2 separate regions of the Homo sapiens genome follow, and region 2 is linked to region 1. Evidence: fine-mapped expression QTL. A gene starts in region 1. The other region holds a variant in brackets. All regions are shown on one strand. Distances are between the middles of the regions.

Evidence for each region.
Region 2: its variant is fine-mapped to the expression of HPAT5 in hypothalamus (GTEx, PIP above 0.99).

What each region holds. Positions count from the first base shown.
Region 1 is chr6:167,221,231-167,237,527 of GRCh38, reverse strand. HPAT5 (human pluripotency-associated transcript 5) reads right to left here and starts at 9,228. Exons shown (of 4, transcript NR_157263.1): 1 at 9,131-9,228; 2 at 5,571-5,701; 3 at 4,968-5,049; 4 at 16-287. LOC102724220 (a long non-coding RNA gene) reads left to right here. Exons shown (of 2, transcript NR_187777.1): 2 at 1-20. RefSeq lists a silencer at 5,385-5,523 and enhancers at 9,252-9,784, 10,898-11,699, 12,695-13,473, 14,973-15,589, 15,590-16,207.
Region 2 is chr6:167,250,904-167,267,200 of GRCh38, reverse strand. No RefSeq gene overlaps it. Among named protein-coding and RNA genes, the nearest start is that of HPAT5, 31 kb to the right of the region's middle. The variant C/T (reference allele first, on the strand shown) is at 7,697.

The sequences.
Region 1 (16,297 bases):
AAAGAACAAACTCTGTAAAATATTGGAGAGATTTATTTCGAGCCAAACGTGAGTGACCACAGCCCGTGACACAGTCCTCAGGAGACCCGGAGAACGTGTGACCCAGGTGATCAGGGCACAGCTAGGTTTTATACATGCTATAGGGCATAAGGCATCAATCAATACATTTAAGCTGTACATCAGTTCAGACGGGAAAGGTGGCACACCAGGAAGCAGAGGCTTCCAGATCACAGGCAGATTCACAGATTTTCTGATTGGCAGTTGGTTGAAAGAGTTTATCTAAAGACCTGGAACCAATAGAAAGGAAATATCTGGGTAGGATAAGGGGTTGTGGAGACCAAGGTTCTTATTACGCTGATGCAGCCTCCAGGTAGAAGACTTACAGAGAATCGATGGTAAATGTTTCTTATCAGACTTAAAAGGTGCCAGAAACTTAGTGGAGTATTTCCTGGATGAGGAAAAAGGCCTGGAAAGGGAACAGGATTTTCTACAGAATATAGACTTTCCCCACATGAGACAGCTCTGCAGGGACATTTCAAGATATGGCCAAGAAACATATTTAGGGTTAAAATATTTGGATTTTCTTCCTTATCTGTCATGTGAGGTTACACCAGAGTAAGGTTGGAAAGAGCCGAGTTACACAGGGTTAATAAGACCCCTCCAATGAGGCTTTGTGGTTTGTAGGGTGACCTCCCCAGGCCCCTTAGGTAGGAATTTGGGCAGGAGAGAAAAAAGGTCAGAGTTTAGTCCTCAAGGCACAGACTTATGTTCTTGACCCTCCTTCCATCTGGTGGTACATTCAGGCTAACGGAAAAATCCTACATATTCCACGTTGGATCCGTCCTCCCTCCTCCTGACTAAAGGGTTCTAGGTGTGTGTGGTGATACAGCTGGGATGGTTATTCCTTCCGGAAGCTTCATCCTGTTTTTCCTCCTTCTGATGTCCAAATTCCTGCCTCACACACTGGGGTCTTTTGCTTTGTCATTCACACATTAACACAAGGCCTGGATGCAGAAGGCTGATTCCTGTTAGTGCCTGTGATGGCAGCAGTGGGCCATCTGGTGCGGCCTGGCCCCTGCCCGCACGCAGACTGCTGCGGGGCGTGTGCAGGGAGGAGGTGGACAGCCCCCTCCCTCCACCCGCTGCCCTGGGGGCCGCCGGGATGGAGCTAGGCGGGGTCCAGTTCACCCACCGGCGGGGCAGCCGTGCAGTGGGGCAGTAGCTCCTCCGACAGAAAGGGGCCTGATGAGGGCTGGGCCGCACTTCGGGGATCCGGGGCAGGAAGGGATAGTGACACCTACTCAGGGGACCTGGCCAGCTGGGCACCCACTGTGCCCACCCCACAGAGGGTGCCGGGTTCCTGGGTCGCGGGAGGAGGCTCTGCGTGGGGGCTGCCCAGACCGTATCCTTGGAGTCCGCCTGGCGTCGGGGTGACCACCAAGCCTGCCATTCCTGAGGGCGGGGCCTGAGGCCCACGATCCACTCTGCCCTGGGCCACCCCTGAGTACGGGGGCAACAGGGGGAGCTCGTGGTAATGTTGCCCCTGCCCTGGACGCTGGCCTGAGCCCAGCAAGGATCAGGAGCCCCTGCCTCAGGCTGCAAGGGGTCACAGTTGGGGCTGTGTGCCCCACGGAGTGGGTGGGAGCCAGGAGCAGGCAGCAGCACCGCCAATCTCTCCCGCGCGGCTGCAGCCGCCCGAGTTGGGGCGGTAGACACGAGCCTCTGTGTGCTCTTGGAGGGCTGAGGGTAGGCAGGAGCCGTGCGCTCCTGGGTGCTGTGGCACTCCAGGGTGCCGCCCAAACTGGGGATGCTGACCTGACCTCCTAATCCAGGCGGGTAGGAGCCCCACCCTCCTGGACAGGGCTGCAGCCGCCCATGTTGCGGCTGCAGATCTGAGCCTCCCTTTGCTCTTGGGTGGGTGGGGGCAGGCAGGAGCCCTGCATGCTCCTAGGCACTGCTGCGCTCGCGGAAGCCGCCCGAACTGGGGCTGCAGACAGGGGCCTCCAGCTCCATGGCGCAGGCAGGAGCCCCCACCCTGCACACCCGCAGTCGCCCAAATCTGCCGCTGCAGCCTCTGGCATCCCTGCACTCTTGGGGGCCGGGAAGGCCACGCCTACCCTTGGGGGCTTGGAAGTGCCTCCTCCCGCTGCCTGGGTTCTCCCTACTATAAGCCCCTCTCTGATCTTGGTACAAAGTCAGGGCAAGCCCCAACACCATGAATGGCAGGGATGTGAGACCCAGGCAGTTTAGGTGACCTGCTCAAGGACGCACGCTGTGCACAGTGGCTGAGCCTGCTCCTGTCACGTCCCAGGAGACTTCAGAGTCCTCGTGATCCCAGCTGTGCTGTGCTCCTCCTTCCGCTGTGGGTCCAAGGCATGGTTTATACCAGGACTCCTCCATGTTTGGGAAACCTTCACGGGGCACCGCTGCTGTTATTTCTCCTCCCTTTCTTAAGTTTAAGCAAAAAGTTCCATCCATGGGTAGCATTCTTTACAACTTAGACTCGTCAATGATCAGCAAGAATTTAGACTTTGTCAATCTCAAGAAAATGATTATAAAATCCAGACAGTGTTCCAGGGCTATCTGACAAGCAAGAACACCAGTAACTTAGTTCATTAGATGCCTTCCAGCGACAGGATGCTACTTAGACAAGTTCCCCTGAAACTCAGGGCTGCAAGTCTCTAGATTGATTATCTGCAAATGCAGCCATCTGCTTCCTGCTGTGACACTTCATTCCTCCGCCCTGGCTGCACTGCAGACAGACGCTGGGGAGACCTCGCCTTCTCAGGGTGGCACTGTGTGGAAGCCAGGGCTCACCCGGCTCTGTTCCCACAGGGTGGGAGTTTTTCATTTTAACAGTTACAGAATCATCTACACGGATGTCACCCTGAGAGTTGTAATCCCCAGGAGAAGTTGTCATCCATGTCACTAGCACAGCTTGCTGTGTATTCTGTTTTGATTTGGGCTTTGATTTTTAATTAATTCTAGTGAAAATCTTTTAATGAAAATCTTTGCTTCAAATTTGAAAAAGGTAGACAGCAACCTGCAACACACAGGCAGATGATCAATAAATAGTCCTCTCACTGAAGAGTGGTGTGAATTCGCTAGTTAAGACATACCTATTAGATATGTTTAAAAAATGTGTTTCAATGGAAAACTGTAACACATACTTCTGGGTTGTTCATTGTCTTTGAACTATTTTACAATTCTTTGCAAATTGCAGGTAACTGATGGAGATATATAGACATAGATCGATCTATCTATCTATCTATCTATCTATCTATCTATCTATCTTCTGCCCTGTCTAGTAGTGATTTTTACTGGCTTCTTTCTCCTGTAAAAAATTTGAAAATAAATAAATAAAAAAGTTTTCTTTCCATTTGCAACTCATTTCAAAATTCCTTTACTCCATATAAATTTGTATTGTTTTCACTTTTCCTTTAAACTATTTCTAACATCTGCCTAGTTCCCTTCTATCATATGTGTAAAATAAAATCTTTAAGAGTTGTGTATTTTAATATCTTGGTGCAAGTCATTGTTTTACCTTTTTCTGAAAATTATCTTTCAGATAATATATAAAGAACATGCTGTACTGTTTAGATTTTTTTTTAATTTTGCAAGCGACCGGAATTGTGTTATTACCCAAATCAATGTTCCTGAGCATTTGGTGAGCAGAATTTTTAAGGAAAACTTGGTGGGTGCGGGGGAAGCCAGTGAGCTGGGAGCGCTGATTGGTCAGGGGTGAAATCACAGGGAGTCAAAGCTGTCTTCTTTCACCGAGTCAGATCCTGGGTGGGGGCCGCAAGTCAGATGAGCCAGTTTATCCATCTGGGTGGTGTCAGCTGATCTATCAAGTGCAGGGTCGGCAAAATAGCTCAAGCACTAATCTTAGGAGCAGTTTAGGGAGGGTCAGAATCTTGTACCCTCCAGCTACATGACTCCTCCACCATGATTTCTTATCTCGTGGTTATTGTTAGCCCTACAAAGGCAATTTAGTCTTCAGGCAAGAAGGAGGTCTGCTTTGGGAAAGGGCTGTTACCGTCTTTGATTTAAACTATAAACTAAGTTCCTCCCAAAGTTAATTCAGCCTCGGTCCAAGAATGGACAAGGACAGCTTGCAGGTTAGAAGCAAGATGGAGTCGATCAAGTTAGATTTCTTTCACTGTCTCAGTCATAATTTTGCAAAGGTAGTTTCAATCCCTCCCTTTGTGTTTTATAACACCTTAATCTTGAGGTTAGCCTATGAAGATGGGAAAAGACTGCGGATCGCTCTGGCGTCTTCCTGCTGACAGAGGGCGTAGTGGGAATGGGAGTGAACCCCAAGGTGAGAGGAGTGAACCCCAAGGTGAGAGGAGTGAACCAATTTACTGCTGTCTGGGCGACGCATGCAGGTCTGACTGGGCTTCCAAACCTTGCATGGCAAAAGCATTAGTACCCTCATCTATACTTTCAGTACAGTATTTAACTGAACAGTGTACCATAAGGTAAATAACGAGTCCTAGGATGAGCAGTACAATTCCCAGTTTTAAAAGCAATGATTAGAAAGCATGAGTTTGGGGACTTCTAACCCACAAAGAATTTAGGAATTAATCCAAACTGCAGAAAAAAACCTCAATAACAGCTAACAACAGGTGTACTATAGCTTTCTTTTGAAATATAATTTTTCTCTCTTCAGTCCCCATTTTTATTAAAAACAAATCATGATAGAACGGATTTGTTTACAAAATCAACTTTAGTCTTCCCGTACTTGGCCTGATCATTTGCAGCAAGAATAATTATTTTTCACTTAGGCTCTTTTTAATGGGCTTTGATGGAATTCTGTTCCATGAGGAATCCCACATATGACTTTTTAAAAGCCGAGCCCAGCCATCGGTTTGTACCCTCAAATAACTATGAGTTGGGTAAATTCCTCTCCTCTTGAGGCCCAAAGGTAACTTGGGGTTATCTAAGTGACATTCATTACTTACCACAGGTCAGGAACCTTGTACAGGAACTGCATAGATGAGGTATGAGGTCAGATTCCCCAAGAGACTTATACCTGATTATAAACTGCCAAAGCAAGACGAAATGTCTGTGTATGATAGAAGTCTTAAGATAGCCACTACTAAAGCTACAATTGACTAGAATTTTGTTTACTTCTGTGGCATACAACAATTTTGTATAAAAATTATAATTATTAATAACACTAAATTATATCAGAATTATAGAAGTTTCCCATAATTTTGAAACACATACTAATAACATATCTATACAGATACAGTCCAAAGACAACCAAACACTATTCACTCTTCTATTTGAAAGTTTTTTTCTCTATTCTAACGTCACAATCTCCAGGTTATTAATCAGAAATCTGCACTGAAGAGCCCCTGTTAAATTTTATAGCTGATTATAAAACCATCCTTTAAAGAGGACTGGCCAGGCACAGTGGCTCACACCTGTAATCCCAGCACTTTGGGGGACCGAGGTGAGTGGATCACCTGAGGTGAGGAGTTCGAGACCAGCCTAGCCACCATGGTGAAACCCCGTCTCTACTAATAATACAAAAATTAGCCGAGCATGGTGGCACACACCTGTAATCCCATCTGCTCAGGAGGCTGAGGCAGGAGAATTGCTTGAACCCGGGAGGCAGAGGTTGCAGTCAGCCAAGATCGTGTCATTGCACTCCAGCCTGGGCGACAAGAGTACAAGAGTGAAACTCCATCTCCAAAAAAAAAAAAAAAGAAAAAAAGAGGACCAAAATGAGACAACAATTGCCTGTGGATGACAAAACATTTTAGGGCAGCCACAGTTAAAGACACAATTGGCAAGGAAATTTGTTACCTCTGTGGCACACAGTCATTTAACATAATAATTATAATTATTACTGATAACTTATACTAAGTCATATTAGAATTATAGGTGTTTTACATAATTTTGAAATATGTGTCAATAACATATTTGCACAAATATAGCCCAAAGAAAGCCAAACACCATGTCATATTTGACAATGCTTTCTGTATGATTTTTATACCAAATAAGCCAAATGTCATTTTTGGACTTTAAAGAACCTAATATCTAAAAGGTTAAAAAGAGACATAATTTATAATTTGGTTTTGGAACGTTTGTCAAATATCAAAGGTTTAAAACACTGAATATCACAAAATAGCATCCCAGGTCACCATAAGTCATCCATTTGGCCAAAATGATAGCTCCAAAAATTTTAAAAAGGAAAAATCTTTACTCTGATAGAGGAGACTTAGCTTTCCAACAAGACCCAGTGAAGATAGCATGAGGCCAACTGAGTCTGTCTTTTCTCTCTCCTCCCCTTTTTCCCTGCCACTTACCTAAAAGAGGAAAGAAAACCCTTTCATTATCCTTTAATATTACATAAAAATCATCTTCAAAAGAGAAAACCAAATTTCATGTTTGCATTAGTGCATCTTTAATGCTAAAGCTAGTTTTTAAATAAAATTTTATATATCTGTCCAGTTTTAATTAGTTTGACCATAAGGTAAGATTTTCATGAACTTTTTAGAACCCTTTCCAATTTTCCATCAAACAGCAGATCAATTTTCTAAGCAAACCCTATTATTCGGACACGTGGGCCCAGACGCTGGCCCTGTATCAGTATGGTTTTAGTGTTTTAACTTATGGAGAAAAGCTAAATAATTTCTTTCAAATCTTAGCCAACTTGTTTATACCCACAGAATTTTTTTTTTTTTTTTTTTTACAAATCAACCCTTTACAAACCCTTTTCACTTTGAGTAAGCCTTCGGTTTTATCCCATTACTCTTTTAGGTTAACACAATCTTTAAAACCCTCTGAACTAGACAAAATTACATTCCCTTTAACAGAAGCCATATTCCCATACCTTCTTATAATCTTTTATCAAAAACACATTCCCTACACACCATGTATGTAAAGCTGTTTCTCCAGTGGTCTCAATGTTACATTGTTAATTCTTAGCAGCTTTTGTTTTTAGTGAAAACCCTGATGAGTAAGTGATTTTAATTATGTACTGGGTGGAGCCCAGGACATCAGGCAGAAGTGAAGATGAGGTCTGACTCTTTTCAGCATGGCCAGGGGCATGGCTCTCCACAGCTCCCCAGGCCTCCTCTGTCATCTAATCCTCCAAAGCAGGTAAACTGAACAATTTTTCCAAAGGAAACAGTTTGACCTTAAAGCATTTAGCAAATCTGATATCTGACCTTAATTTAGACCAAATACCTACATTTTCAAGACATGTTATTTTACCAGTAATCTTTAAAACTGTCTTTATTTGCAAAAGATTACTAAAGCCATTTGAAGAAAAAGGCATTAAAGATTTTTTCTGTCAAAATATTTCATTTACATGCTTATTTTTCTAAGCCAATTATCAGAGCTCTTTTACATACAAACATCACACACCCAACACATATAAATACGCAGACAGAAATACAGAAGATTTAGCACTTGTAACATTTTTCATTTGCCAGTTTTCTTAATTGGATTACTGACTTCAGGGTGGAGCCCTTGAAGGAACAGAGTCAGGAAAGCATGCAATTCTTGGGCCAAATAAGCAGGAACAGGTGAAGGCAAAGACAGATCCCCAAAGTTAAGGGTGCCATTTTATACTGGATCTTGAATCCTCAAAAGGAGGAAAATCCTACAGGAGAAGAGACAGTGCAATGCTTCTACGTGCATTTCATGGCAAGGCCACCCAAAGCCAATCAGCCCATCCCCCACGGGAGCTTCATCTCTCAGCTGAGGGTGGGGACCTTTCCATGTCTTCCAGGTGTCCACGAGCATTTGCTTCTCTGATCCAAGTGTGCAGTCAAGTATCCCTCCATAACTACTGCTAGCCATCCCCTAAAGTATTTCCTACCTTGTTATTACACACCCAAGCTCTCTCGTAATGTGAAGTAATTTCTTAAAACCCCAAGAACTCAAAACTGTCAGATAACACAATGCAAAACAGAGCAGAGCTTTTGATTTTGAGAGGGATCTATCCGCTTTTAGTTCCTAGGGTTTCATGAGGAAAACAGAGCTTTTTTCCAAAACAGGGTCTATGGTGCCTCCTGTTTTTTTCAAGGAGTACCAGGCTACCAGAAGAGGACCTCTCATGTATGCATTAAGATTAGCAAGACAAAAAAATTGAGAAAAATAATTAAGTCGACTGAGAAGAAAAAAACCTTTTTTCCAGAAAAACAAGATCCAAGAAGGGAACAACATAAATGCCTTTTAAATATATCTATAGCTTGTTTATCCACTTTTAATCAAGCTGACTTTTAACCAGAGCGCTCTTAAAAAAAAGTCCTTTTAAATTTCTTATTACCCGACTTTAGCCAGGCGGCCAATATTTCTGGCTTTTGAACTTTACCAAAGGTGACCTCCCAGATGCTTCAAAGACATGGTAAGCAGTTTCTTTTTTACAAGATTTAGAATCTTCCCAAGGTAGTTCAGAGAAAGGAAAATTCAAGAGAAGAAATCAGAAACTCCCTGGGGGGGGGAAAAACAACTCAATAAATGGCAAAATTACACAACTAACAAATCAGAAAGGAATAATTCCAGAAAGCAAGAATTGAACCCAGGCCACCATCATCAAAAGGCAAAGCCTTAGCTACTGTATTATGGCATTGAGCAGTTTTTATTGCTTTTCCCAGAAGGGTCCTAGAGAAGCCAATTTCAAGCTTGCCAAGGCTTTTAACTGGTCAAGAAAATTTTTAGGGCTATGACATGAACTCTAAAATTCCTGTCCTCTAAGACCGAATCTAAGAGAATCTAAGGCCGAATCTAAGAGAAAGTGTCTGCACATGGTCACAAGGTTAAGCTCTTAAGGACACAAAACAAGACAGAGATATTTCATCTGGTATTGGTTTCAGGAACCCACAGCAAAATTTGTAACTGACCAGTCTGCTGGGCTGGCTTGTAATGCAGGTTATGGGGTCCTAAACCCACGTTCTAGCCTGTGCTATCCCTCTGTCCATTACAGAACACAGAAAGACAAATTCTCAGCACAAAGTACACCAGATTTGCTATAACCTAAGAGTAGTCTCACAAATCCCTTGTCTATTAATCAAACCCTTGCAGAGAGACAAATAGTGACGATTACCGTTTACACAGACAGAGGAAGAGAGAGAGACCAGAAACTTGGCTGGTAAGAATTTCTTACCCTTTTTGCCGGCATACCAGGTTTCCGGGCTCCCTTTCTCTGCAGCTTCCAGAAGAATGGAGCAGCTCTGATGACCCTGCTCGCTAGTGCCATGGCTGTGGGGTTCAAACCACTTTACAAGAGAAAATCACCCCTTTCTGTGTTATGGAACCACAGACAAGATTCTTAATTTGCAAGATGCTGCCCAACAGGCTGCCTGGGGAACCCAATTAACATTTTCCATCCCAGCGAAATACACATAACAAAACAGACATGAATCACCTCATTCAGCACCCACTATCAGCCTGGCAAAGCCCAAACTTTCTCCCGTTGGTCTCTGTTGTCTTTGATCCACCCCAGCTGGGGCGGGATGACCTCCAAAGGGTAATTCACAATGGGGTCTCTGGGCAAGGCGAAGAGCACATAGTCACCCCGAGACAGGCCTGCTGAGCATTTTTCAGGGCTCACCGAATGTGACCAGACAAATAAGGAGGGTTCTCTGAGTTAGGCCTGCTGAACGTCCATCAGCAATTCCCTCTGAGATCCCCTCCACATATACAAACACACATAAAGACAAGATGAACACAGCGTTTTCCAAATCAGATCCCTAACCAAGAACTCCAAGAGTGTCCCTTCCAAACTGTCCTTCTATTCTCCATCTGAGAAATCTCCTCGAAATCTTCCTGATTGAGGAGAAGTCTCCCAAACCAAGACTCTTTCTACTAGTTAGAAAGAGCCAACTGAGGCTGGGCGCAGTGGCTCGCGCCTGTAATCCCAGCACTTTAAGAGGCCAAGGCAGGAGGATCACTTGAGGACAGAAGTTCGAGACCAGCCTGGCCAGTGTGGTAAAATCCCATCTCTACAAAAAATGCAAAAATTAGCCGGGCATGCTGGTGCACACCTGTAGTGCCAGCTACTCAGGAGGCTGAGGCAGCAGAATCACTTGATCCCAACTCAGGAGGCAGAGGTTGCAGTGAGCCAAGATTGTGCCACTGCACTCCAGCCTGGGTGACAGAGGGAGACTCTGTCTCAAAAAATAAATATAAAAGAAAGAGCCAACTGAGACCCCCAGGAGACAAACTGAGACAGACACCCCGAATTGGGTTACAGACACAGACACCCCATGGTGGAGCTACAAGCCAACATCCCTCAGTGGGGCTACAGACACCCCACCGGAGGGTACAGAACCAGTCAGCAGAAGGAAGGAGGCATTGGCAATGCCTAGGATACTCACCAACCCAGATATCCTGCAATGGGGTTACAAACATATACCCCACCATGGGGCTACAGACAGACATCCTGTGATAGGGTTACAGTTAAGAGATGCCTCCCCAGGACTATAATTCTATTGCAATTAAATCCATGCATATTGCGTCGGCAGCGCCCCACCAGCAGAGAGAATACCACAATTAGCCCCTAGTCCGAGAGAACTACGTGGCCGCTTGGTCTGGCCTCTGGATCCATCGCTGGAGAGGGGGCTACTGAACCATGGGCAGGCAGCCACAAGGGCAATCCCGGATGAGCCCACACATTTGTAACTGCCCAAGGGGTTCACCTTGCCCACTGCCTAGACAGAGCTGATTTATCAAGACAGGGGAATTGCAATAGAGAAAAAGTAATTTACGCAGAGCCAGCTGTGCGGGAGAAGAGAGTTTTATTATTACTTAAATCAGTCTCTCTGTTTAGATTTTTAACCCATTGCTTATATTTTGTTCTATGTGAGTGAGAATGGGCTACTAGGAATAAGAAAATATATTCTTTCTTTGATTCAGTTGAGTATGACCGTAAACGAAGGGTGCAATACTCATGGAATTTTCCACCGAAAATTATGTGTATATTTGAAATCAAGCAGAGCAGTGCAACAGAAAAATCAACAAAGATGCCAGATCCTTATCCTTGGAGGATAAAAAAAGTAGGCATGTGTGAAAGAGATTAGGACTGCCTGACATATGATGGTTAGTTGAATTTAGTCTGAATTTCAGTGGAGTCCAGCTGGGAAAACAAGACTGCATGAAATACCTAGAAAACAATACCAGGCAATCCACAATTCACTGTGAGATTGTGTAATAAGCGATGTTCTTAAGGAAGTCCATGAGCGCAGGAAGGTATTTGCTTTGAGAGGATTCCAGTGCCCTTACTTCCTCTTCAGTTCCCGTCACTGGCCTTTTATTGATGTGTATTAGTTTGAGACTTCAAAACCCAATCTCATGTTTCAAGGTACAGATGTAACTGTACATTAGATACTCAAAAGCCGAGGATGAGGTCTCGGGATCAGCAAAGCTGGCCACCTGCCTTGAGAGCGGCTCCTACCCCCTGCAGGCGCCCCCTGATCTCAGGTGGTGCCTTCAAATCCTTTGTAGAGGCTGGGGGAGGGGAAGGAGGAGCACATTTGTTAATGAGGGGGAAAATGCTGTGTGCTTTCAAGGGAAAATGCTAAATTCATTTCAATAGCATATGAATTACTTGCTGTTAAGGAATAGGCACCCTTCATCTCAATAGAACCCTGTCTTTCAAAGCCTTCACTTCCGTATCCTTGAGGTTTCTCTTCAAAGAGGGCTGAGCACATTCACCCAGGCACTAGGAGGCCCTGTGCATTTTTTGTCCTGCTGTTTCCATGGATAATTTAAAAAGAATTATGAATATCTCAGTCCTTAGAGAGTCAAAGAGCCCCGAGACCGCTCAGTCTAGGTCTGCTGGAGTGGCTCCCTTTGTGGGTCCCTTTGCTGGCTGAAACCTGGCCAGAGGTCGCGGGGGACAGCACCCTGTCTTATCATAAGTTCCTCAAATGATTGTTGTATAGTATAGACCAATGTATCACCTGCTGACGCTGGAGAGGGCACTGTGATTTTAAGATGAGCTGAAGCATGAAGTTTTACTGATTTGTTTTCATGTGGACATTGTTAGCCTGCAGGTCGTAATCTGTAGTAATGATTGTGACCTCTGAGTTGCATCCTCCAAAAGAAAGAAGACTACTCATTTAAACTCTCCTACAAAAACCTTTGGCCTTGTGACAGACTCCAGAATGCTGTCAACTCCGTGGGTATGTCTTCCCAGGTCCAACCTCACATTTGGCTTTCAATAAACTGTGATAAAATTATTTCTGCCTCAACAGTCTTAATTTCAGCTGACAATCTCAAGTCCACCAGTGATGAGGGGAGCAAAGCAAAGGACACAATTTGCACAGCATCTTATTGTTATGGGAGGAGAAGTGGCTGCCAACAGGACCCCAGGACAATGGGAATGCAGTTGGCTTCAGATAAGAGACAAAAATGAGGCTTCAGATGAAAGTTAACGCCTAGGATAACAGGCTGTGTGAGCGGGTTGTATTTGATGGGAATATTGAGTATGGGCCCGTGATTGAGAACTCACAATTACAAGAAAAACTTTTTTTATAATGTACATTTGCTCTTTGTCAAAGTTATACTGCAAGGAAGCTGACATGATTTCAGAGTTCAAAAATATAAAACAAACTGGACTCAGTCATCTCTCTCACTGTATGTGAATAACAAAGAAAGAAAGAATTGGTGTAACAAACTATGACTCCACAGAGATCCAACAGTACCGTTTCTTAGGAAGTCTAAACCAAAAAGTGTCTGAGGCTGGTCCCAATCAGTGTAAAGGTTTATTCTGTCAAGTTTGAGGATGTGCCTGGGAACAGGGAACACAAAAGCACAGGAACATCTGTGATCTGTGCTTTTTCTTTTTCTCTTTTTCTTTTTCGAGATGGAGTTTTGCTCTTTTTGCCCAGGCTGGAGTGCAATGGCACAATCTCAGCTCACCGCGTCCTCCTCCTCCCGGATTCAAGTAATTCTCCTGCCTCAGCCTCCCGAGTAGCTGGGATTACAGGCATGCGCCACCACGCCCAGCTAATTTTGTATTTTAGTAGAGACGGAGTTTCTCCATGTTGGTGAGACTGGTCTCGAACTCCCGATCTCAGGTGATCCGCCCGCCTCGGCCTTCCAAAGTGCTGGGATTACAGGCATGAGTCACCGCGTTGCCCAGATCTGTGCTTTTTCTAAGAGCATTTTGGGCCTTCAATATTTAAAGAGGAAAAGTGAGCAGGAAGGGAAAGAGGGAGCATAGGGTCACATTCTTGTGAGTCTTTGATTAGACTTACTGAATCCACGTGTTGTGTGTGAAAAGGAGGGGAAGAGGGAACACTCAGTTATGTATTCATGTCATGCTCAGTAAGTTGGCACTTATCTAAGATAAGGTGACCACAGAGCAGCTGCCTGTGGAGACACCTGGCCTTCTATGTGAGGCTATCTGCTTAGGAACAAAAGGAAAGGCAGTTTCTTGCATGACTCAGCTTCCAGCCTTAACTTTTCCTTTTGGCATAGTGAATGGGTTCCCGAGATTTTATTTTCCTTTCACAGAAGGAAGCTGATCCCTGCTGGCCTCACACAGAAAGGGGAATAGCCACAGGGCCCAGGGTGGAATTTTCACCAAGTCCATTTGCAGAGGGTGTCCTTGCGGTGGGTCCAAGACAATGCCCCCTTGTTCTGCACACTGTTCCTACCCCATCCACAAAGATGGACCTTGTGGCAATGTTGGTGGCCTCTGAGCACCTCCTACGCCAGGTGAATTAGCCTGGGGGGATGTACAACTCAAACAGATCACGATCTGCCTCTTTTACTAAGAATTGTGTTTTGGAACTGTCAGAGAATTGAGGCACTTTTTCCTTATGAATGAAATTAGGGGAAAAAAATGCATGCTTCATTGTTAAGGAAATACAGCAATATTGAATCAGGTACCTGATTGGATCAAGGTTGATACTGGAAATGCCCATCAACAAGCCCTTAACTTGAACTTACTGTGTCGGTAACAAAAAGGGGTACAAACTTATCTCTCTCCTGAGAAGCTTCAAGTTGTCCCCGCTTTCCAGACTGAATCAATGTACTTCTTGCATATATTGATTGATGTCTCACATCTCCCTAAAATGTAGAAAACTAAGCTGTGCCCCGGCCACCTTGGGCACATGTCGTCAGTACCTCCTGAGGCTGTGTCACGGGTGCGTTCTCAACCTGGGCAAAATAAGCTTTCTAAGTTAACTGAGACCTGTCTCAGATTTTCAGGGCTCACAGATGGTAAAAGGAAAGAAATCTGTAGACATATGAAAGATAAATTGAGTCTTCCTGACATGAGGGCATTTCAGTAAACACTTTCCTAGAGTCAGGGGCTCACAGCATGTTAAATCTCCTCTCGGAAAGTTCATACTTCTCTTATTTTGGCAGACTCTGTACATTCTACTAAAATCCAACAAATATTTGCTGAATGCAAACGAAGTACAAAACCCAGGGCAAAATGCTCTCTGGCTTCTGCTCACTTCTGGGCCTGGGGCAGTCCCGCAGAACAAGCCTTGTTCCATCTTCAAAACACTAGGGATGGGGCAGATTTTACCAGAACCCCCATGGGCACAGGAGCACTTACAGACCCTCTACTGCAGCATGGAATCTTTCTTCTACGTATTTATTTTTTTTTTAACTTTATGTGATATTTTTCTTCATAGATCACAAGGATAACAGTTGCGTGAGCTTCTAGAGACTGTCTGGCCCAGTGCATGACATGCAGTTGGTGTTAACTAATAGCTGATGAGCAGATAAATCAAGACACTCAGTTCCTACAAAATAAGAGACACAGTGTGAAGGCAGTGGGGTAAAGGGGTTTAAAAACAACTTCCGAACATCCGGGCTGGGGAGGGATGGGGGACAGAGGAGAGGAGGACTAGAAAGCGAAGGCCAGGCATGCCCATCCTCTCCGCTAAGCCCTGTTCATTAGGTTTATCCACACAGAGCTCATGTTGCCCACTTGAGTAGATACTGATCATGGCTTTCGGGCCACTGGAAATACACAGCTCAATATCATTCATTAACTGAACACACTGGGTAAGAAAAACACAGGATATTGGGGATTCCTTGGAAAAACAGAGTCTTGCCTTTAGTGCCCACACACAGCCCATTTTCCTGAGAAGGGCCCTGGTCCCGTGTCCGGGGTGCAGACCCACAGTCTGGGACTCTGAGGGCGGTCGCCACAGGTGGGTGCGTTGACAAATCGTGGCTGCTTGAGAACATTGGGAGATCTTGCTACAGAGGTCCGTGGGTCCTTACCTTGGGAACGCCGGACACAGCGCACACAGCCCACCAACCCCAGACCCCTGGTGGTATCACGCTGTAAGCACAGAACTCCTACTCGCCTTGTAGTCCTCTCCATAATCCTCTCCAGTTCTCAAAACACATCATCAGCTTGATTTTCTCCTCGGCTGTGCCAGCATAAGCCAACCTGTTCCTTCCCACACCGTCTGGGCCTTCGGGCCCTGCCAGGTGGCACCACTGCAGAGGGGCAGCACTGAGTGGGACACGTAGGTGTGTAGTTACCTGCCCAAGGGAGGGTGGCTGACCATCTGGGACACCATGCCCAGGCACACTCCCTGCTATGCAGGCTGGCCCTGAGCCATGGCGTTTAGGCCAAGGGAAAGGGCCCTGGCTGGCATTTGTCACAGGTCTCCCCTTGTCTAATGTGCAGAATTCAGGAAATACTTTTTGAAGGCAGGATTGCCATGTAGCCAGCTGTCTGCCAGGGTTCATCCCAGGGACCAACCCCACTGTGTGCTTCTTTACAGCTCATCATAAACCGGTCAGGAGAAAAGGAGTTGCCAGCCACGGGGGTGACGTGAGCCGGGGCCTAAATGACTGGTGGCAAGCCGGGACTCACACTGGATTGCAGCCTGATTAGGCTTGCGGGGCCAGAGGGGATGAGAGTTAGCCAGGGCGGTGGAAACGGCTTCCCTGCCACTGCCGTTGTCTCAGGTGGCTGTGTCTGGTGCCTGAGCGCTCCGGTTCACAGTTTCTTTACAACCACCGCGGTGGGAGTTCTGGGGGCCGCCTGGGGAAGCAGCTCAACCACAAGAATGGGCAGCCCAGAGGGCAGGTGGGGGCTTAGCTTACCTGATAGAGTTCTTTCTAGAAAATTCCTTTATAGAAGTATAGTTTTCCTTAAAAATTTTGTTCTTCTTAAATTAGATGTTCTTCTTAAAAATACAGAAATAGGCCAGGCGTGGTGGCTCAGGCCTGTAATCCTAGCACTTTGGGAGGCCTAGGCGGGCGGATCACGAGGTCAGAAGCTCAAGACCAGCCTGGCCAACATAGTGAAACCCTGACTCTACTAAAAATACAGGAAGATGAGCTGAGC
Region 2 (16,297 bases), 30 kb before region 1:
GGATGAGCAGAGAAAATGCCTGCAGAGGACATTCCTGGATGCTTAGTTATGGACAGGGCACCAGGAGAAAGGGTGATGCTGGAGTCTCTCTTTAGTTCTTAGGGATCATCAACAAAGAGGGTGTCTCCTGAATCAAAGATCACAGCAGAGTGTGTCCGAGAGGCCGCCTCTCACCTCCCTCCCTGGCCTCGCACACGCAGTCGGGACTGGACTTCTGATGGCAATTCAGTGACGCACAATCGAAAACCAGCAGCGCGGAACAGGAGATGGGAGCAAACTAAGCTACCGTTTCACTAACTTCACAGAGGAGCCTGACACAGAAAAATGTATACATTGTTTGCCTTAAAGTGAACAATAGGGAATAGCTATCGTATCTTCAAAGCAGCTTTCCAAGATCAAATCCGTCGCATCCGGAATGCGTTTCTTTGACCTTGGAACCTCCAGGAGTGGCCAGGCTCCCCCACAGATCACACGCAGCATTGCCTAGAAGCCGGTAGCTCTCCCGTAGGACGCTGGGAAGCAGCCAGCTGTTCATGTGGGAGTGTCAGCGTGCGTTCCTTTGTCAACGTCCTGCAAGAAAGAAAAGGCAAGAACGTCAGCGATGGCTCCACTGACTGATTAAGGCAAAGGAAGTCGCCACTGTGAGTGATCACCCAGGCTACGCTGGACAGAAACAGGCCATTTGCCCAAGTCCCCCAGCAGCTGTCTTTGTTCCCCACTTCGATTTGCTAATGGGCAGTGGGGCTGGAGCTCACTCTGCTCCTTCAGGGAGTGGCTTGGCGACCAGGTCAGACTTCAGTGTCTCCAGGAGCCTGTGAACCTGGTGCAAGGCTCTTCAGAGTCAGGGAGGGTGGCACACGGTCTTCAGACACGGAACTGAGGCTGTCAGTGGTGGGGAGTAAGTGAAAAATCCCACAGGCCCTGCACTGTGTCCATACGTGTTATTAATCTTAGCAATGTGGCCCAGAGAACGCAAGCTCTTCCAGCCTCTGCCCAGGGGCAGCCCAGGAAGCCGTCAGGGATGAGTGATTCCCTTCCCTTCCCAAGAACCTGAGACAGGCGCAATTACCTCCATGGCTGATAACCACTGTTCTAATCCCATGCTTGACTTAAAATCATCATATTTTAGACTTAAGAAGTCCGGACCCAGCTGATTAATCAGCCTTTCCCAGGAGCCATCTGCGGGGCAGGGTCAGAGGAACCCTGGAAATTTTCTGTTCAGCCTGAATCTCTCTGTCCTGTTTTCCGAAATTACTCCCACTAGAAATAGAAGTTTCCTGATAAAAATGCCTACCCCCTGAGAATAGTGATGCTACGAACAGTGCGTTGATAAACACAGCTTCAGCTGTCTCAGACCCAGCACCCCACTGTAACACATATTTTATAATGCTCCTTTGCTGTCTTCTAATAGGACTCACAGATAACATAACCTTTTAAAGAAAGCAATATAATGTCCCCATTTTTATGTGATGAAGAAGTAAAAAGAAAGTCACTTAATAAAATAATGGATCTTTGTACTATGTACATACTTTGCCTATGTACTATAAGTGAATTCTGATAACTAAGCTAGAGACATTGATAAGACAACAAGTAGAAAAGGGTTTATGTGATAAATATTGTCATTGTTTTCAGTTCATTTGTTTATGTTTTTAATTGCCATAGTCTCAGTATGCTCAAAATCCTTTAGCTAGCACTCTGAGTACTCAAGGAATATGTCTCTTCTGGGCCAGGGAGGGCATGTGTGTACACATAGGTGCTCTGTTGTACTGGTCTTACAGCAGGGAGGTGACCTCTCAACTGTCTGCCAGGGAACTAAAGCTCAAAAAACATTTTTAAAGGTAAAGTACCATAAAATTTACACATCCATTTGCATTTGCATTTCCATCACCAGACAACAATGAGATGATGAATTTTGTCTCATTTAGACGTCAATTTGTTTCTGGACTTTTTATAAGCAAAAATGGAAGTATTTTAAACTAAACAGTAACTTTCTTTAGACAATTAAAATAAAGTACACTATTCAAACTTAATATAAAATAATAAAAAACATAAAAGCAGATAATATTCAAATATGAATTAGCCAGGCACGGTGGCGTATGCATGTTATCCCAGCTACTTGGGAGGCTGAGGCATGAGAATCACTTGAACCTGGGAGGCGGAGGTTGCAGTGAGCCAAGATCACACCACTGCACTCCATCCTGTGTAAAAGAGCGAGACTCTGTCTCAAAAAAGAAAAAAAAATTCAAATATGATTCCTGTTGTCATAAAAGATCTTCAGTAGACAAAAAAATCACTTCGCTCAAACAGGAATAAAACACAGGACACATTTTTCACATATTTGCTTTACACTTACAATCTCATCCAACCACAAAACATCTTAAAACTTGCAGACTGAATTATATATATATATTTGTATATTTTTTTAAATTTTACTTTAAGTTCTGGGATACATGAACAGAATGTGCAGGTTTATTCCATAGGTATACATGTGCTATGGTGGTTTGCTGAACCTATCAACCCGTCATCTAGGTTTTAAGCCCCACACGCATTAGGTATTTGTCCTAATGTTCTCCCTCTCCTTGCCCTCCACCCCTCAACAGGTCCCGGTGTGTGATGTTCCCCTCCCTGTGTCCATGTGTTCCATTATTCAACTCCCACTTATCAATGAGAACATGCGGCGTTTGGTTCTCTGTTCTTGTGTTAGTTTGCTGAGAATGATGGCGTCCAGCTTCATCCATCTCCCTGCAAAGGACATGAACTCAGTCTTTTTTATGGCTGCATAGTATTTCTTGGTGTATAGGTGCCACATTTTCTTGATCCAGTCTATAATTAATGGGTATTTGGGTTGGTTCCAAGTCTTTGCTATTGTAAATAGTGTTGCAATAAACATACATGTGCATACGTCTTTACAGTAGAATGATTTATAATCCTTTGGTTATATACCCAGTAATGGGATTGCTGGGTCAAATGGTATTTCTGGTTCTAGATCCTTGAGGAATCGTTGCAATGTCTTCCACAATGGTTGAACTAATTTACACTCCCACCAACAGTGTAAAAGCATTCCTATTTCTCCACAGCCTCACCAGCATCTGTTGTTTCCTGACTTTAATAACTGCCATTCTAACTGGCGTGAGATGATATCTCATTGTGGTTTTTGATTTGTATTTCACTAATGATGAGTGATGATGAGCTTTTTTAAATATGTTTGTTGGCCGCATAACTGTCTTCTTTTGAGAAGTGTCTATTCATATCATTTGCCTACCTTTTTTGATGGGGTTGTTTGTTTTTGTCTTGTAAATTTGTTTAAGTTCCTTGTAGATTCTGGATATTTGACCTTTGTCAGATGGGTAGATTGCAAAATTTTTCTCCCATTCCTTAGGTTGCCTGTTCACTCTGATGATAGTTTCTTTTGCTGTGCAGAAGCACTTTAGTTTGATTAGATCCCATTTGTCAATTTTGGCTTTTGTTGCCATTGCTTTTGGTGTTTTCGTCATGAAGTCTTTGCCCATGCCTATGTCCTGAATGGTATTGCCTAGGTTTTCTTCTAGGGTTTTTATGGTTTTGGGTTTTACATTTAAGTCTTTAATCCACCTTGAGTTAATTTTTTTATAAGTTGTAAGGAAGGGGTCCAGTTTCTGTTTTCTGCATATGGCTAGCCAGTTTTCCCAGCACCATTTATTAAATAGGGAATCCTTTCTTCATTGCTTATTTTTGTCAGGTTTGTCAAAGATCAGATGGTTGTAGATGTGTGGCATTATTTCTGAGGCCTCTGTTCTGTTCCATTGGTCTATATATCTGTTTTGGCATCAGTACCATGCTGTTTTGGTTACTGTAGCCTTGTAGTATAGTTTGAAGTCAGGTAGCGTGATGCCTTCAGCTTTGTTCTTTTTGCTTAGAATTGTCTTGGCTATATGGGCTCTTTTTTGGTTCCATATGAAATTTCAAGTAGTTTTTTCTAATTCTGAAAAGAAAGTCACTGGTAGCTTGATGGGCATGGCATTGAATCTATAAGTTACTTTGGGCAGTATGGCCATTTTCACTATATTAATTCTTTCCATCCATGAGCATTGAATGTTTTTTCCATTTGTTTGTGTCCTCTCTTATTTCCTTGAGCAGTGGTTTGTAGTTCTCTTTGAAGAGGTCCTTTGCATCTCTTGTAAGTTGTATTCCTAGGTATTTTTTCCTCTTTGTAGCAATTGTGAATGGGAGTTCACTCATAATTTGGCTCTTTGTTTGTCTATTGTTGGTGTATAGGAATGCTTGTGATTTTTGCACACTGACTTTGTATCCTGAAGTCTTTGCTGAAGTTGCTTACCAGCTTAAGGAGTTTTTGAGCTGAGATGATGGGGTTGTCTAAATATACAATCATATCATCTGCAAACAGAGGCAATTTGACTTCCTTTCTTCCTATTTGAATACCCTTATCTCTTTCTCTTGCCTGATTGCCCTGGCCAGAATTTCCAATACTATGTTGAATAGGAAAGGTGAGAAAGATCATCCTTGTCTTGTGCCAGTTTTCAAAGGGAATGCTTCCAGCTTTGGCCCATTCACTGTGACATTGGCTATGGGTTTGGCATAAATACCTCTTATTATTTTGAGATGTGTTCCATCAATACCTAGTGAATTGGGAGTTTTTAGCATGAAGGGATGTTGAATTTTATCGAAGGCCTTTTCTGCATCTATTGAGATAATCATGTGGTTTTTGTCATTGGTTCTGTTTATGTGATGGATTACATTTATTGATTTGTATGTATTGAACCAGCTTTGCATCCCAGGGATGAAGCTGACTTGATCATGGTGGATAAACTTTTGGATGTGCTACTGGACTCAATTTGCCAGTATTTTATTGAGGATTTTTGCAATGATGGTCATCAGGGATACTGGCCTGAAATTTTCTTCTTTTGTTGTGTCTCTGCCAGATTTTGGTATCAGGATGATGCTGGTCTCATAAAATGACTTAGGGAGGAGTCCCTTTTTTGCTATTGTTTGGAATAGTTTCAGAAGGAATGGTACCAGCTCCTGTTTGTACCTCTGGTAGAATTCAGCTGTGAATCTCTGTGGTCCTGGGCTTTTTTTGGTTGGTAGACTATTAATTACTGCCTCAATTTCAGAACTTGTTATTGGTCTATTCAGGGATTCGACTTCTTCCTGGTTTAGTATTGGGAGGGTGTATGTGTCCAGGAATTTATCCATTTCTTTTAGATTTTCTAGTTTATTTGTGTAGAGGTGTTTCTAGCATTCTCTGATGGTAGTTTGTATTTCTGTGGGATCGGTGGTGATATCCCCTTTATCATTTTTTATTGTGTCTATTTGATTCTTCTCTCTTTTCTTCTTTATTAGTCTAGCTAGTGGTCTATTTTGTTAATTTTTTCTTAAAAAAAAAACAAAACAGCTCTTGGATTCATTGATTTTTTTGAAGGGTTTTTCATGGCCCTATCTCCTTCAGTTCAGCTCTGATCTTATTTCTTGTCTTCTGCTAGCTTTTGAATTTGTTTGCTCTTGCTTCTCTAGTTCTTTTAATTGTGATGTTAGTGTGTCAATTTTAGATCTTTCCAGCTTTCTGATGTAAGCATTTAGTGCCATAAATTTTCCTCTTAACACTGCTTTAGCTGTGTTCCAGAGATTCTGGTACGTTGTCTCTTTGTTCTCACTGGTTTCAAAGAACTTCATTATTTCTGCCTTAATTTCGTTATTTACCCAGTGGTCATTCAGGAACATGTTGTTCAATTTCCATGTAGCTGTATGGTTCTGAATGAGTTTTCTAATCCTGGTTTCTAATTTGATTGCACTGTTGTCTGAGAGACTGTTTATTATGATTTCTGTTAGTTTGCATTTGCTGAGGACCATTTTACTTTCAATTATGTGGTCAATTTTAGAATACATACTATGTGACCCTGAGAAGAATGTATATTCTGTTGATTTGGGGTGGAGAATTCTGTAGATTTCCATTAGGTTTGCTTGGTCCAGAGGTGAGTTCAAGTCCTGAATATCTTTGTTAATTTTCTGTCTCGTTGATCTGTCCAACATTGACAGTGGGGTGTTACAGTCTCCCACTATTGTTGTGTGGGAGTCTAAGTCTCTTTGTAGGTCTTTAAGAACTTGTTTTATGAATCTGGAAGCTCCTGTGTTAGGTGCATATATATTTAGGATAGTTAGCTCTTCTTGTTGCATTAATCCCTTTACCATGATGTAATGTCCTTCTTTGTCTTTTTTGATCTTTGTTGGTTTAAAGTCTGTTTTATCAAAGACTAGGATTGCAACCCCTGCTCTTTTTTGCTTTCCATTTGTTTGGTAAATATTCCTCTCTCCCTTTATTTTGAGCTTATGTGTGTCTTTGCACATGAGATGGGTCTCCTGAATACAGCATATCGATGGGTCTTGACTCGTTATCCAATTTGCCAGTCCATGTCTTTTAATTGGGGCATTTAGCCCATTTACATGTAAGGTTAATATTGTTATGTGTGATCCTGTCATCATGATGCTAGTTGGTTATTCTGCACATTAGTTGATGCAGTTTCTTCATAATGTCATTGGTCTTTATATTTTGGTGTGTTTTTGCAGTGGCTAGAACCAGTTTTTCCTTTCCATATTTAGCGCTTCCTTCAGGAGCTCTCATAAGGAAGGCCTGGTGGTGACAAAATCCCTCTGCATTTGCTTGTCTGTAAAGGATTTTATTTCTTCTTTGATTATGAAGCTTAGTTTGGCTGGATATGAAATTCTGGGTTGAAAATTCTTTTCTTTAGCCGGGTACGGTGGCTCATGCCTGTAATCCCAGCACTCTGGGAGGCTGAGGCAGATGAATCACAAGGTCAGGAGTTCGAGACCAGCCTGGTCAACATAGTGAAACTCCGTCTCTTCTAAAAATACAAAAATTAGCCGGGTGTGGTGGCACATGCCTGTAGTCCCAGCTATTCGGATGACTAAGGCAGGAAAATAGCTTGAACCTGGGAGGTGGAGTTTGCAGTAAGCTGAGACTGTGCCGCTGCACTGCAGCCTGGGTGACAGAGTGAGACTCTGTCAAAAAAAAAAAAAAAAAGAAAAGAAAATTCTTTAAGAATGTTGAATATTGGTCCCCACTGTCTTCTGATTTGTAGGGTTTTTGCAGAGAGATCCACTGTTAGTATGATGGACTTCACTTTATAGGTAACCTGACCTTTCTCTCTGGCTGTGCTTAACATTTTTTCCTTCGTTTCAACCTTGGAGAATCTGATGATTATGTGTCTTGTGGTTGCTCTTCTCGAGGAGTATCTTAGTGGTTTTCTCTGTATTTCCTGAATTTGAATGTTGGCCTGTCTTGCTCGGTTTGGGAAGTTCTCCTGGATAATATCCTGAAGTGTGTTTTCCAACTTGGTTCCATTCTCCTCATCACTTTCAGGTACACCAATCAATCATAGGTTTAGTCTTTTCACATAGTTCCTTATTTCTTGGAGGCTTTGTTAGTTCCTTTTCATTCTTTTTCCTCTATTCTTGTCTACACGCCTTATTTCAGTAAGTTGATCTTCAATCTCTGATATCCTTTCTTCTGCTTGATCCATTTGGCTATTGATACTTGTGTGTGCTTCATGAAGTTCTCCTGCTGTGTTTTTCAGCTCCATCAGGTCATTTAAGTTCCCCTCTAAATTGGTTATTGTAGTTAGCAGTTCCTGTAACCTTTTATCAAGGTTCTTAGCTTCCTTGAATTGGGTTAGAACACGCT[C/T]CTTTAGCTCAGAGGAGCTTGTTATTACCCACCTTCTGAAGCCTACTTCTGTCAATTCATCAGTCTCATTCTCTGTCCAGTTTTGTGCCCTTGCTGGAGAGGAGTTGTGGTCATTTGGAGAAGAGGCATTCTAGGTTTTGGAATTTCCAGCACTTTGTGCTGCTTTTTCCTCATATTCATGGATTTAGCTACCTTTGATCTGTAAGGCTGATGACCTTTGGGTGGGGTTTTTGTGTGGGGGTCCTTTTTGTTGATATTGATGTTGTTGCTTTCTGTTAGCTTTTCTTCTAACAGTCAGGGCCCTCTTCTGTAGGTCTGCTGCAGTTTGCTGGAGGTCCACTGCAGATCCCAGACCCTGTTTGCCTGGGTGTCACCAGTGGAGGCTGCAGAACAATAAAGATTGCTGCCTGCTTCTTCTTCTGGAAGCTTTGTCCCAGAGGGGCACTGGCCTGATGCCAGCCAGAGCTCTCCTATATGAGGTGTCTGTTGACCCCTGGTGGGAGGTCTCTCCCAGTCAGGAGGCAGGGGGGGTCAGGGACCCACTTAGGAAGTAGTCTGTCCCTTAGCAGAGCTGGTGCGCTGTGCTGGGAGAATCCCTCTTGTCAGGACCAGCTGCTCTCTTCAGAGCAGGCAGGCAGGAATGATTAAATCCACAGAAGCTGCGCTCACAGCTGCCCCTTCCCCCAGGTGCTCTGTCCCCAGAAGATGGGGGTTTTGTCTGTAAGCCCCTGACTGGGGCTGTTAACCTCCTTCAGAGATTCCCTGCCCATTGCGGAAGAATCTAGAGAAGCAGTCTGGCCACAGCTGCTTTGACACACTGTGGTGAATTCTGTCCAGTCCAGACCTCCCAGCCTCAGTACCGTCAGGGGAAAACCACCGACCAAAGCCTCAGTAATGGCGATGCCCCTCCGCCCACAAAGCTTGATTGTCCCAGGTCAACTTCAGATTGCTGTGCTGGCAGCAAGAATTTCAAGCCAATGGTTCTTAGCTTGCGAGGCTCCGTGGGAGTGGGACCTGCTGAGCGAGACCACTTGGCTGTCTGGCTTCAGCCCCCTTTCCAGGAGAGTGAATGATTCTGTCTTGCTGGGGTTCCAGTCACCACTGGGGTATGAAAAAAACTCCTGCAGCTAGCTCAGTGTCTGCCCAAACAGCCACTTGAAACCCAGGGCCCTTGTGGTGTAGGCACAAGAGGGAAGCTCCTGATCTGCAGATTGCAAAAACCAGGGGAAAAGTGTAGTATCCGGGCTGGGTAGCACAGTCGCTCACAGCTTCCCTTGGCTGGGGGAGGGAGGTCCCCCAGCTCCTTGTAGTTCCCAGGTGAATTGATGTCCCACCCTGCTTCTGCTCCCCCTCTGAGGGTTGGGCCCACTGCCTAAGTCCCAGTGAGATGAACTGGGTACCTCAGTTGAAAATGCAGAAATTACCCACCTTCTGCGTTGTTCTCGTTGGAAGCTACAGACCAGAAGTTTTCCTATTTGGCCATCTTGGCCCCTCCCCTCATATTTTCTTACTTACAAAATCTGATTACCTGGATTCAAGACAGAAATTGATAATACATTAAAGGTAACTATCTAAAAATCCACAGCCAAGAAGAAAAGGAAACCCCATTAATAAAACGGAAGTTTCAGTACTTTAATAGGGATATGTAGGTGCTACAAATTTATTTTTAACCTTTCAAAAGTCAGGTTGAATAAATATACTGTAAGAGGCAGGGTATACGTCTGTGTGTATATTTATACATATATATATATAATTGAATAAAATGATAACCTTCTGCACATCTGATTAGAGAAACATCCTAACCAAATTTAAGATAAAGGGATTACTGGGAATGCAGCATAACACCATTGCTTGAGAACCAGCCCTCTCTCCCCAGCCAGGTGAGCTCACGGCACAGTTCTGAACCACGGCAATTGTACGCCCAGTAAACAGGCTGGTGTGAGAATTAAATGAGACAACATGTTTGCAGCACTGGGAAAGATTCAATAATTTGTTAGTACTACTGGGATGGGTGGGGAGAAGCATCTAGTAAGTGTTTTTATGTATTGCTCAAAAGTGTAAATTGTCACAGCCCATCACAATGGCAGACATACATCTGTCCCTATGTGATGTATACAGTTTCATGTGGCATTCACTACAGCACGGTGTGTAATAGCAAGATCGGAAACAACAGGTATACCCTTCAGTTGGGGATAGGTTAAATAAACGTCACTTCCTTACAGAAGAACATTATACAATTGTTGTTGTTTTTTTTAAAGAAAAACAAACAAACAAACAAAAACAACCCTGACTGGGCACAGTGGTTCACACCTGTAATCCCAGCACTTTGGGAGACCGAGGTGGGTGGATCACCTGAGGTCAGGAGGTCGAGACCAGCCTGACCAACATGGTGAAACCTCATCTCTACTAAAAATACAAAAATTAGCCAGGCATGCCTGCGATCCCAGCTACTTGGGTGGCTGAGGCAGGAGAACCATTCGAACCTGGGAGGCAGAGGTTGCAGTGAACCGAGATTGCACCACTGCCTTCTGGCCTGGGCAACAGAGACTTGGTCTCAAAAGAAAAAAAAAAAACCCCTCCTTATATATTAATGAGAAAAGTACTCCATGGTAAATTATTGAGAAAAAAGCAAGGTATGGAACAGTGTATATAGTATGCTACCATTTAAGTAAAAGAGGAGTAGAAATGTGTATTTATTTGAATATATTAAAGCAAACCCTCTAGAAAGTCATACAAACAATTACTAGTAATAATTAACTACTGATGATGAAAGCAAAACAGCACCTGATGTATGGTCAACCCTCAATAAATGGAAGCTGTAATTGTTCCCTCCATCAGTAACATCATCATCAAGAAAACATATCCTTAGACTACAGACAACATATCCTTAGACTCCGGAAGACATTCAGGCTAAATCCATAAGGGGGCAAAAAGCCAAATTTCAGTTTTCAAGGGCTATGTCGCAGATCTGAGCCCTGATTCCTCTTCAGAGGAAAGGAGCTTTTAGTCATTGTGCGGTTGGCCATCACCTCCGGAAAGCAAGACAAAGGCTCTTCAGAGGCAAGCTGAATACTCGCCACCTTGCAGCTGGTAACCCCAGAAAGCTGGGCCCACCAAGGACACACTGCAAGCTGCTCACGGTTCTAATGGCTCAAAGTCCAACACCAGGAAATGAAAGACACTCAGGCCCAGCGTGGCACTGCCTCAGTCTCAGGTGAGTGTGGACAAGTGACCTACTGTTTTACATTTAGCAGCATCAGAATAACTTCATGTTCTTGAGATATATTCTCATTAAAAGAGGGTAGTTAGATGTAAGTGTAACTGGATTTCCTGGTGGTAACAATGCCTATGGAGAAATAGCTGCCTGGACTATAACGCCCCCTGGTGAGAGTGTATCTTAATTGCAGGCAAAGTATCTAGGTGATGAACGATCCCCTGAGGGGCACACTTACGAGTTTCTTTCTCCACTAAAGAAAAATGACTGCTGTGGTCTGAATGTCTATGTCCCCTCAAAGTGTGTATATTGAAATCTGATACCCAATGTGATGGTGTGGAAAGGTGGGCGTTTTGGGAGGTAATTCGGTGATGAGGGAAGAGCCTCATGAGTGGAATTAGTTCCCTTATAAAAGAGACTGGAGGGAGGCCTTTTGTCCCTTCTGCCATGTGAGGACACAGCAAAAAGGCTACATGCACAAGTCAGAAAATGGGGCCTTATTAGACACCAATTATTCCTTGACCTTGGACTTCTCAGCCTCCAGAACTGTGAGAAATAAATTCCTTCTCTTTATAATGCACTCAGCTTATGGTATATTATTACAGAAGCCCAAACAGACTAAGGAAATTGGTATTGAGGACTGGGGTACTGCTGTAACCAATACCTAAAAGATGGAAGTGGAAGCGGGTGATGGGGAAAGCCTAGAAGAGTTTTGCTGGAAAAAAGCCTGCATGGCCACAAAGAGATCACTAAAGGGGATTCTGGGTGGGCTCTGAGGAGATAAGGAGAGCTGTAGAGAAAGCCTGAGTCTTCTGAGAGCTGGTCCAAGTGGTTGTCATCAGAATGTTCATAGAAATGGACAGTTAAAGCCATTCCAAGGAGGTCTCAGATGGAAATGAGTAACATACTATTGGATACTGGAGGAATGGCAATGCCTGTTATAAAGTGGCAATGAGCTTGGCTAAATTGTGTTTGTGTCCCAGTGTTTTGCGGAAGGTAGAACATGAGAGGAATTAAATAGAATACTTGGCTGAAGAAATTTCTAAGCTAAGGGTTAAAGGCATGCCTTGGCTTCTCCTGAAATCTTATATAGTAAAATGTAAAAAGAGAGAAATGACTTAAGGACAGATTTTTTCTCATCAAAAGGGAAGCAGAACTTAAAATTTGGAAAATTCTCAGCCTTTTCATATTGTAAAAAAATGAGAAAGTGTGTTTGGGAGAGAGCACAAAGAGTGTAGCAAAGCAATCATTAGATAAGAAGATTGGTGTGGATCAACCAGGAGATATTCACGAAGAGAGTGGAAGAATGATCCTAGCAGCATTTCAGATTCCTGGCACTTCCCCTCCCATTACAGACTCAGTGTCAGGGCCTGAGGGGCAGAATAACCTCAAAGCTCTGCTCCCTACATCCCAGCACAATGCTCTTTGATGCCCCAGGTGGTATGGGAGCCGGTGCCTCTCCTCTAGGGGTCAAAGGCTATAAAGCTTGGCAGTGTCCATATGGTGCTATCTCTGCTGGTGCACAGAGCACATGAGTTACAGTGGCATGGCTACCTCCACCTCAATTTCAAAAGCTGGAGCCACCCAGAGCCTCAGACACATGACACAGGCAGAGGGTCACCTCAAGGGTGAATCGACTGCAGATGTCCACAATAGGGAAATGCCAAAAGGAGTGGGGCTGCCCCATGACCCTAGCCTAGTAGAGCCACCAGCATGGAATTCCAGTCTGGAAGAGCCACAGGCATTTGACTCCAACCCATGAGAGTTGCCAGTGCCTAACAAAGCCATGGGATGGAGCTTCCCAGAGACTTGGGGGCCCAGCCACCAACGAAGTGTGTCCAGAAGGCAGAACATTGAGTCAAAAAGATTTTTCTTCAGCCTTCAGGTTTTGAACTTAGGACCCATTCCCCTTCCTTCTTTCCTATTGTTTCTTTTGGAATGGGAATGTCTATCCTGTGCCTATCCTGCTGTATTAGTTCATTCTCACACTGCTGCAAAGAAATACCTGAGACTGGGTAATTTATAAGGAAAGTATTTTTTAATTGGCTCATAGTTCCATTGGTTGTATAGGAAGCATGATGCTGGCATCTGCTCAGCTTCTGGGGAGGCCTCAGGAAACTTACAATCATGGTGAAAAGCAAAGGGGAAGCAGGCATCTTACATGGCTGGAGCAGGAGGGAGAGAGAAGGACAAGTGCTATACACTTTTAAACAACTGGATTTTATGAGAACTCACGCACTATGCAGTACCAAGGGAGATGGTACCAAACCATTCTTAAGAACTCCGGCCCATGATCCAATCACTTCCCACCAGGCCTCACCTCCAACACCGGGGATTATAATTGAATGAGATTTGGGTGGGGACACAAGTCCAAACCATAACACCTACCATTGAATTTGGAAACACATAACATGTTTGATTTTACAGGCTCACAGCTGGAAAGCAGTTTGTCTCACAATGAATTTTACCTTAAATCACACACGTATTTGATTTAGACGATGTTTAAATGAGACTCTGGACTTCACACTTTTGAGTTGATGCTGGAACGAGTTAAGACTTGTAGGGCTGTTGGGATGGAATGAATGTACTTGTCACGTGAGGAAGATGTGAACTTTGGGAAACCAGGGACAGGGCGCTGTGATCTAAATGTTTGTGCTTCCTCCCCACACATTCAGATGCTGAAGGCTAATCCTTATGGTGATAGTGTTGAGAGGTGGGGTCTCAAGGGGGTGATTTGGTCCTGAGAGTGGACCTCTCATGTATGGGATCAGTGCCCATATAAAAGAGAGAGAGGGAGCCTGTTTGTCCCTCTGCCATGTGAGGACACAGCGAGAGGCCCCATCTGTGAATCAGGAAACTGGCCCTAATCAGTCTTCATTGTAAATGTCCACGTCTCCAGAACTGTGAGCAGTAAAAGCCACCCAGTGAGTGGCACTGTGTTATAGCAGCCCAGCTAGGAAATAAGCAGGTAGGGATTTAGTGTATTTCACAAACGTAATTGAATATTTATCATGTGTTTCTTACATTATTTTTCAAATTAACTAAAATACATTTTTTGAATCTATAAACCTTCAACATATTATCATCCTGTATTATGCCATTCTTGCATTACTATAAAGAAATAGCTGAGACTGGGTAATTCATTTAAAAAAAGTTTAATTGGCTTGTGGTTCTACAGGCTATACAGGAAGCATGGCGGCTTCTACTTCTGGGAGGCCTCAGGAAGCTTCAATCATGGCGGAAGGCAAAGGGGGAGCAGGCACATCACATGGCAGGAGCAGGAGCAGGAACAAGTGAGAGACAGTGGGCAGGGAGGTGCCACCCACTTTTAAATAACCAGATCTCATGAGAACTCACTCTCAAGAAGACAGCATCAAGCCATGAGGGACCCACCCCCAGAACCCAAACATCTCCCACCAGGCCCCACCTCTGGCATTGGGGATTACAACTCAGCATGAGATGTGGGTAGGGACAAATATCCAAACTATATCACATCCTAATGGATTAGCACATAAACAAAAATAAACTTTTATTACAAATAATCAACTAAGCATTATATTGAAATAAGAAATTAATCGTTCATAAACATTTAAAATGACATATTATTTGGTGTTTTTAACAAAAGTCATCAATGCTTCTTTTTTTGTGTGTGTATGTACAAAATTTTCCAGAATAATCCTATCAGTTTTGAAGACTGCACATTAGTTCATCTTTTTTTTGGCACAAAATTGAATAGTTTAGTCAATGACTTTCATTTTAAGAGATAAATAAAGGCTGGGCATGGTGACTCACACCTGTAATCCTAGCAGTTTGGGAGGCCAAGGTAGGAGGATTGCTTGATGTTAGGAGCTTGAGACCAGCCTGGGCAACAAAGCAAAGCCCTGTCTCTACAAACCATTAAAAAATCAGCTGGGTACAGTGCCATGCTCACAGGATTTCTTTGAGCCCAGGGATCTGAGGCTGCAGGGAGCCGTGATTGCACCACTGCACTCCAGCCTGAACAACAACAGATGACACCTCATCTCAAAAAAAAGAAGTTAATAATTCAGACCTTAGTTTCCAAAAATAGTGGTATAATTGTAGTATACCAATAAAAAAATACTGGTATTTCAGGACTTTAAAATAGAACTATGTATCAGAATTCAAGAATTTTAAAAATGAGTATTTCTATCATTACTGTCAACGTTTTTAGGATAAATAAATGTATTTGATAGTTATTTGAAACTCGTCGATCACCATGCCTTCCTTGGACGACTCTTTGAAGTAGATTACAACCTTCAGTTTGAGAAATATTAGGGAAGGGAATTGTCCATAACAAAAAAAAAATTATAATCTGATGGGTTTCATTATCTTCGAGGTAAAGGGTCTATCCCTGAAATCTTAGGTGTGATTTGAAGGTAGATACAGTTAGAATAATGGAAGAGGGGAATGTACAAAAAGGACTATATTTTTTTATACATCATGCCGTTCCTGCTGGATATTCTATTTCTGGTTCCTACTGATAAATTCTGGAATTTCTAAAATATACAAAATCCAAAAGATTCATGAACCTTTGAATAGCATAGCCGGGGAAGAAATGACTTCTTGCTTGACAATCTTTAAGTAACTAGAATATCAAGAACCTAGACTTGATTGCATGTGACTGGGGCTGCATCATCTGACTGCCTGACAGGGGCTAGAGAACCCACCTCCAAGATCGCGCACTCACATGGCTCATGGCAGGAGACCTCAGTTCCTCACTGACTGTTGGTAAGAGGCGTCTGTTTCTTACGCCTGGGCCTCTCCACAGGGCTGCTCGAGTGTCTTCATGACACAGGCCTGGCTTGCCCCAGAGTGAGTGCTCCCTTTGCAGATACGTGCAGTAGTGAAATATCATTACTTTTGCCATATGCTACTTGGCATAAGCAAGTCGCTAAATCCACCTCTCACATCAGGGTGACTTATCAAAGGATTAGTAAAAATGCTTCGAAACCACTCACCTTCCCTGTAAGCTCTGTTAATGAATTCCAGGCTTTGTTCATTCTGGTTATAACTGTCCCTTGAGAAAAAATGAATAAGATTGGCTGTACCACATGAATTTATGCACTAGCCTCTCTCCACTTTATGGATAAACCAGGTTAGGGCATTAAAACTAGAACTCGAGACTAAATGTCCCTGTTTAAAGCATAAAATAGTATTTCCTACATTTGAAATGTTAGTATTGTCTTCAAAAAATAAATCTCTGCGTGATCCTTATTGATCAATTTTGGGTATTTTTGCATCTTTGTTTTATAGTATTCTCAATTCTTAAAAAAGGGATCCATTTGGTTACCTTGGAATGGAGGCCAATTTATCTTCTAAATGTTTGCACTAATTGTATCGGAATCTCAAAGCCTATGTGTCCCACA